2 linked regions of the Homo sapiens genome follow. Changing the gene in region 1 together with any one later gene gives a genetic interaction. Each region holds a gene or a part of one and is shown in the gene's direction. Other genes may lie near its edges.

Region 1 (3,500 bases):
TTTTTTTTTTTTTTTTTTTTTTTCTGAGACGGAATCTCACTCTGTCACCCAGGCCGGAGTGCAGTGGTGCAATCTCGGCTCACTGCAAGCTCCACCTCCCGGGTTCACGCCATTCTTCTGCCTCAGCCTCCCAAGTAGCTAGGACTCCAGGCGCCCACCACCACGCCCAGCTAATTTTTTGTATTTTTAGTAAAGACGGGGTTTCACTGTGTTAGCCAGGATGGTCTCGATCTCCTGACCTCGTAATCTGCCCGCCTCAGCCTCCCAAAGTGCTGGGATTACAGGCGTGAGCCACCACGCCCAGCCTATACAAATACAAATCTTTTATATGAAATGCTCAACCTTTTTAGAACTAGCCAGGATATAGTAAATAAATAATGTTATACACATTCTTATATCTAGATTAACTGAACCTAAGTCCTACATTTAGGATATGTGAAAATCTCAGGAATTCAGAAAGGCTTTTTTATTTACTTGTCTTCCCTTCCCTGTTGCCGCCACGTTAGATTATAATTAGAAGTCTCTGATTAGTCTCTGTGATTGCCCTTTTTGAACTAGAGAATGTGTAGTAGAATGTATAATTCCTGTAACTTTCTTTTAAAACTCTGAATATCCTTCATGAGGGTTGTCAATTTCTAAGCAAATGGTGTTTGTTAACTGGTGTTTGTTAACTATTAATAGAACCTTTGTATTTACATTGTAAAAGGATCATTAGTAGTAAGGGTCAGAGTTAAATTAGCAACTAATTTTAAGTGTATTTGGAGTGGCTCAGATATATGAATCTACTTTTTCAACAATAGATTTTATTAAATCTAAATATAGGCCAAGTATTTCTGATGAAAATTTAGCATTCAAATTGAGATGTGGTGTAAGTGTAAAATGCTCACCAAAATCAAAGACTTACTACCAGAAAAGGAACGTAAAATGTCTTATTAATACTTTTTATGTGATTGTATGTTGAAATGTTAAAATCTTTGATATTTTTGATGTATTCGACTGAGTATAATAGTAAAAAATTTAAAATAAGCAATTTGGTGACTAGTGGAATAGTTAAGTAATTTTAGGAAAACAGCAAAAATCTCTTGATTTCCTTTATTTTTCTTTTTATTATCATTATTATTATTATTATTTGAGATGGAGTCTCACTTTGTCACCCAGGCTGGAGTGCAGTGGTGTGATCTTGGCTCACTGTAACCTCAACGTCCTGAGTTCAAGCGATTCTCCTGCCTCAGCTTCCCAAGTAGCTGGGACCACAGGCACATGACACCACGTCTGGCCAATTTTTGTATTTTTTGTAGAGATAGGGTTTCACTATGTTGGCCAGGCTGGTTTTGAACTCCTGACCTCAAGTGATCCACATGTCTTGGCCTCCCAAAGTGCTGGGATTACAGGCATGAGCCACCACACCCAGCTTTTTTTAATTATTTTTTTAAGCCCAAACTTCACCATCTTGGTTTCCTTTATAACCCTCCTAGGAATGGGGCTTTAAACAAGCAGCTTAGCAAGGTAGCAGAGCAAACTATCTTAAAACTGGAGATTTTGATAGACAGGGCCTTTGAGTCCCAAACTAGCATTAGAAAATCTAATTCTCTGGCCGGGCACGGCGGCTAACGCCTGTAATCCCAGCACTTTGGGAAGCCGAGGCAGGCGGATCATGAGGTTAAGAGATCGAGACCATCCTTGCCAACATGGTGAAACCCCATCTCTACTAAAAATACAAAAATTAGCTGGGCATGGTGGTGTGTGCCTGTAGTCCTAGCTACTCAGGAGGCTGAGGCAGGAGAATTGCTTGAACCCGGAGGCAGAGGTTGCAGTGAGCCAAGATGGCGCCACTGCGCTCCAGCCTGGTGACAGAGTGAGACTCCGTCTCAAAAAAAAAAAGAAAATCTAATTCTCAACTGTAAGGTTCTATGGTCATTAATGATCTGAGAAATTGGGGGTGGTGGCATACAATTACATACACAGATTTATAAAATACGAGCAGTGATTCCCTAACTCTTCAGTTAGACTAAAAACATTTGTTTATAGATTGACAAACTTGTTTTGAATTTTTAAATTAGGTGACTAATAAAGGTACCAGAAGAATATGGCTGCACAAATACCAGAATCTGATCAGATAAAACAGGTAAGGTATTCTAATTAAGGGGAAAAGATTTTGCAAAAAAATGTAAGGTGCTACTAATGCCACCATGTCAGGCTGGGTGCAGTGGCTCACATCTGTAATCCCAGCACGTTGGGAGGCCCAGGTGGGTGGATCACATGAAGTCAGGAGTTCAAGACCAGCCTGGCCAACATGGTGAAACTCCGTCTCCTAAAAATACAAAAATTAGCTGGGCGTGCTGGCGCACACCTCTAGTCCCAGCTACGTGGGAGGCTGAGGCACAGGAATTGCTTGACCCAGGAAGCAGAGGCTGCAGTGAGCCGAGATCGTGGCATTGCACTCCAGCCTGGGTGACAGAGCAAGACTCCATCTCAAAAAAAAAAACCATGTCAGTGGTTTCACAAAACAATTGTTTCTATTTCATTTCCAAAATGGATATTAAATGTTATAAAGTGTACGTATTTTTCTTGTTCTTTTTTTTTTTGGACACAGTCTCTCTTTGTCGGCCAGGCTGGAGTGCAGTGGCACGATCTTGGTTCACTGCAACCTCCATCTCCCGGGCCCAAGCAATTCTCCTGCCTCAGCCTCCTGAGTAGCTGGGATTACAGGCATGCGCCACCACGCCTGGCTAATTTTTGTATTTTTATTAGAGACAGGGTTTCACCATGTTGGCCAGGCTGGTCTCGAACTCCTGACCTCAGGTAATCCGCCCACCTCGGCCTCCCAAAGTGCTGGGATTACAGGCATGAGCTACCGCACCCGGCCAAGCATATGTATTTTTAATCTGACTGATAATCAAGGAAAAATTAAATATTCAACTAGAAAATAAAACTATTCTGTAGATCATACTGTACCCATTTAAGTTAGCATAATAACTATGATTTCAAGTGTTATAGTATATTTTGTCTAAATATAAAATACCAGTAATTTAAGTTTCAAAGCATCTTTGTTTTAAAAACCAAATACTAAAGAACATTCTGGTTTGTTTGTAGTTTAAGGAATTTCTGGGGACCTACAATAAACTTACAGAGACCTGCTTTTTGGACTGTGTTAAAGACTTCACAACAAGAGAAGTAAAACCTGAAGAGGTATGAAAAGTGTTACTCACTAAAATTCTACAAGCCTTCATAAACACTCTAAGTAGGATCCCCTTAAGCATTTCACTTGTTCCTACTTATTACAGGAATTTAGACTACCTTTTATGTTCCATTGCTTGGAAGAACTGAAGCAGCCACTGAACCACGGCATTGAGTTTAACAGTGCCAAATTTAATGACAGTTACATTGTACCAAGTCAGACCATTTTAGAGAAGATGCCTGCAGCTGCTGAGTTACTGTTTCACAACAAAGATTCTTACTAATTAGCTTTCAGCCAAGATGGCCTACCTAGAGAAACTTGG
Region 2 (3,500 bases), on another chromosome or scaffold:
CCAGGCAGTGGCTGAACGCTAGGGTGTTAACAGGAATGAGAGGCGCAGTCGGCTGGGGCAGTGGTGGGAGCTCCAGGCCTCATCCTGACTCCAGATTCCATCGTTTCTTGCTTCTTTCTCTTCGGTGAACCTTTTGACCTGCAAGGGTAGCTGGGGGTTAACCTGCTACCCTCCAGGTTCAAATCCCGGTTCTCCTGTTTACTAACAGTGTAAGCCCAAGCAGATTTCTTGGCCTCTCTGTGCCTCAGTTTCTTCATCTAAAAATGGGGGAAAGAATAGGATCAGGCAGTTATCATAGGACAGAATAAATTAATATCCAGTCACACACCACACAATGATGAACCACGTACACAATGGTGCTGCCATAAAATTATTATTATTATTATTATTATTATTTTGAGATGAAGTCTCGCTCTGTCCCCCAGGCTGGAGTGCAGTGGTGCAATCTTGGCTCACTGCAACCTCTGCCTCCCGGGTTCAAGTGATTCTCCTGCCTCAGCCTCCTGAGTAGCTGGGACTACAGGCATGTGCCACCACACCCGGCTAGTTTTTGTATTTTTAGTAGAGACGGGGTTTCGCCATGTTGGCCAGGCTGGTCTCGAACTCCTGACCTCAAGTGATCTGCCACCTCGATCTCCCAAAATGCTGGGATTACAGGCGTGAGCCACTGCGCCTGGCCTCCCATAGAATTATAATACTGTATTTTTACTACACCTTTTCTTTCTTTCATGATTGTGTAGTGGCATGATCCTGGCTCACTGCAGCCTCAACCTCCCAGGACCGAGTGATCCTCTCACCTCAGCCTCCCAAGTAGCTGGGACCACAGGCATGCACCACCACACCTGGCTAGTTTTTAAATTTTTGTAGAGATGGGATCGTCTTATGTTGCCCAGGCTGGTCTTGAATTCCTGAGCTCAAGCAATTCTCTCACCTTGGCCTCCCAAAGTGCTGGGATTACAGGTGTGAGCCACCATGCTTAGCCTACTTTACGTTTTCTTTTCTTTTCTTTTCTTTGAGACAGAGTCTCGCTTTGTCGCCCAGGCTGGAGTGCAGTGGCGTGATCTCGGCTCACTGCAAGCTCCGCCTCCCGGGTTCACGCCATTCTCCTGCCTCAGCCTCCGTGTGTGTTACAGTGACCTACAGTATTTAGTACAGTCACATGTGGTCCAGATTTGTAGCCTAGGAGCAATGGGCTATGCCATATAGCCTAGGTTTGTAATAGCCTAGACTATTCAGGTTTGAGTTCACTCTATCACCTAATGGCACATTTCTCAGAGTGCATCCCCATGGCTAACTGACGCATGACTATAGTTGCGCTCTTATATTTAGTTCAGAATTCAGAACCTCTGCTTCCCTCCTGAGAGCCATCTCTGACTGTGCCAACTCAAAACAACTGCCCCCTATTTACCCACATCCCTGGACCTCCCCTCAGGGGAGTGTCTGAGTGGGCATAGGGTCTGTGCCCCCAGCTCCCTGCCCTCACCCTTGCCTTTCTCCCCACCCTCCTAGAAGTGAGTGAGTGTGGAACTGCAGGGCCCTGAACGGCCCAGGGCAGGGCATTGCTTTGCCTGACTTGCTGGGGGCCTTGGGACAGCCCCTTGCAGAGCAGGGAGACTTGGCTGGGAGATCTCCAACTTTCCTTCCCGCCCTCGCTTTTGGGGAGTCCCATGACTTGCTGTGTGACCTTCAGGGCGGGAGGAAGGGTTGAGAATCTGGGTGAGGCTCTCAAGGCTCAGGAAGGAAAGTACGATCGCTGCTTAAAAAAAAAAAATAGATTAGTTGCTGCTTGAAAAAACAAAAAAGCGTAAACCAACAAAAAAGCATAAACCAACAAAAAAAGAAAACCTGCTAGCCAAGAGCCCACCCCACCGGTGGGGGCAGCCTGGGCTCTTCGGGGCTGGGCAGGAGGGTGGGCGGAGGCAGGTGTGTCTGGATGACAGCCGTGTGTGGGAGAGACTTCATCTGGCATCCTCGCTGCCTCCTGTTCCAGCCCAGCCTTGGCTCTGATGCTGGCCCAGCCTTTCCCATGATCCCCTGGGGGGAAGAGAGCTGACCTTAGTGGGTGCCTCCTAGGTGCTGAGTACCTTCATTTACTCCTCCCAATTCTTCTCCAGGGAAGGTGCAATGCTTCCCATGTTAGGGTTGAGAAAGGCAGTTTCTGAGGAGTGAACTTATTTCTGGAGTCACACAGCTCCTAAGGGGAGGGGCTGCAGTTCAAACACTGGGGACTCCAGGGTCCACGCTTCCAGGGGGAGCCCGGGGAAAATGCTGGAGCTCCACGCTGCTGGCCCGGGGAGGCCGAGGCCCCAGCGCCCTGCGGAGAGCCTGCTAGGGCCTGGTGGGTTGGGTTATAGCACCCCTCTGTGGACACAGCTGGCCCTGTGATAACCTCAGCTGTGCACTGGAAAGGGTGGAAGGTAAGGAGGGGGCCTTCTGCCTCAGTTCGTCTCATTTCTCCTAACCTCTGTCCCAGCCTGACGCTGATAACCAGTTCCTGATCTCTGGGCCTGCAACCTCTTCCAAAAAGTCACCATTACCCCATTTCCCAGTAAGCCTCCATTAGCCTCAACCCCAGTCTCAACACTCGGCTTCAGCCTAGTTGTGACCCACAGCCTCGGTTGTGACCTCTCCTAATTCCAACTCCAAGTGCTCACCCCAGCCTCCCTCCCTCCCTCTGTCCCTCCCTCCCTGCCTCCCTCCCTCTTTTCTTTCCTGTCCTTTTTTTCCCTTTCCTTTTTGACAGGTTCTTGCTCTGTCACCCAGTCTGGAGTGCAGGGACGCAATCATGGCTCACTGCAGCCCCAAGCCTGGTCTCAAGCCATCCTCCCGCCTCAGCTTCCCACATAGCTGGACTACAGGTGCACATCACAATGCATAATGTGATAATAAAAAATGTGTTATCACAGTGTGATAATAAAAAAATATTTTATTTTATTTTATTTTATTTTGAGACCAAGTCTCACTTTGCTTCCCAGGCTAGTCTTGGACTCCTGAGTTCAAGTGGTCCTCCCGCTTTGGCCTCCCAAAGTGCTAGAATTACAGGTGTGAGCCACCATGCCTGGCCCAGGCTACTTGCATTACAACCCCAGTCTCAATTCCAAATCCACATCACTTTCTGCCCCAGTCACCTCCCTGGCCCCCTGTGACCTGTTGTTCCTGAGGAAGCAAGATGGGGTCAGATATAGGAGGACAAGAGTCCCTGGACCTCTCCTAAGGGTCTAGGGGGCCAGTCCAGCCCAGGGAGCCCTGGCCTTAAATGGACCTCCAGGACCCTTCAGGTGTGCTGTGGGCAGACCTGACTCAGGAGTGAGGAAGCCGCCTGCATGCCAGGCTTGTTGAAAAATTCACTGGGTTGCCAGTTAGGGAGGAATCCATTCTATTTTGTTAGGATGTGGTTGTACTGGAAACATGGGCTTTGTCAGCAAGACCGGAAATGCGTGGGTGAGGGCCTGGATCGTGACAGGAACTCATTTGGGAGGCGGCGGGGGGGCAGCCTGTCC

What was found.
Region 2: changes in TIMM9 (region 1) and MICOS10-NBL1 together harm fitness less than expected from each alone (positive genetic interaction), as found in Homo sapiens cells (one large-scale study listed by BioGRID).

Annotation. Positions count from the first base shown.
Region 1 is NC_000014.9:58,410,532-58,414,031, reverse strand, and holds part of TIMM9 (mitochondrial import inner membrane translocase subunit Tim9), read left to right. Parts: intron 1-2,060; 5' UTR 2,061-2,086; coding exon 2,087-2,125; intron 2,126-3,093; coding exon 3,094-3,189; intron 3,190-3,500. UniProt on the Homo sapiens protein: Mitochondrial intermembrane chaperone that participates in the import and insertion of multi-pass transmembrane proteins into the mitochondrial inner membrane.
Region 2 is NC_000001.11:19,648,979-19,652,478, forward strand, and holds part of MICOS10-NBL1 (neuroblastoma suppressor of tumorigenicity 1 isoform a precursor), read left to right. Parts: intron 1-3,500. UniProt on the Homo sapiens protein: Possible candidate as a tumor suppressor gene of neuroblastoma. May play an important role in preventing cells from entering the final stage (G1/S) of the transformation process.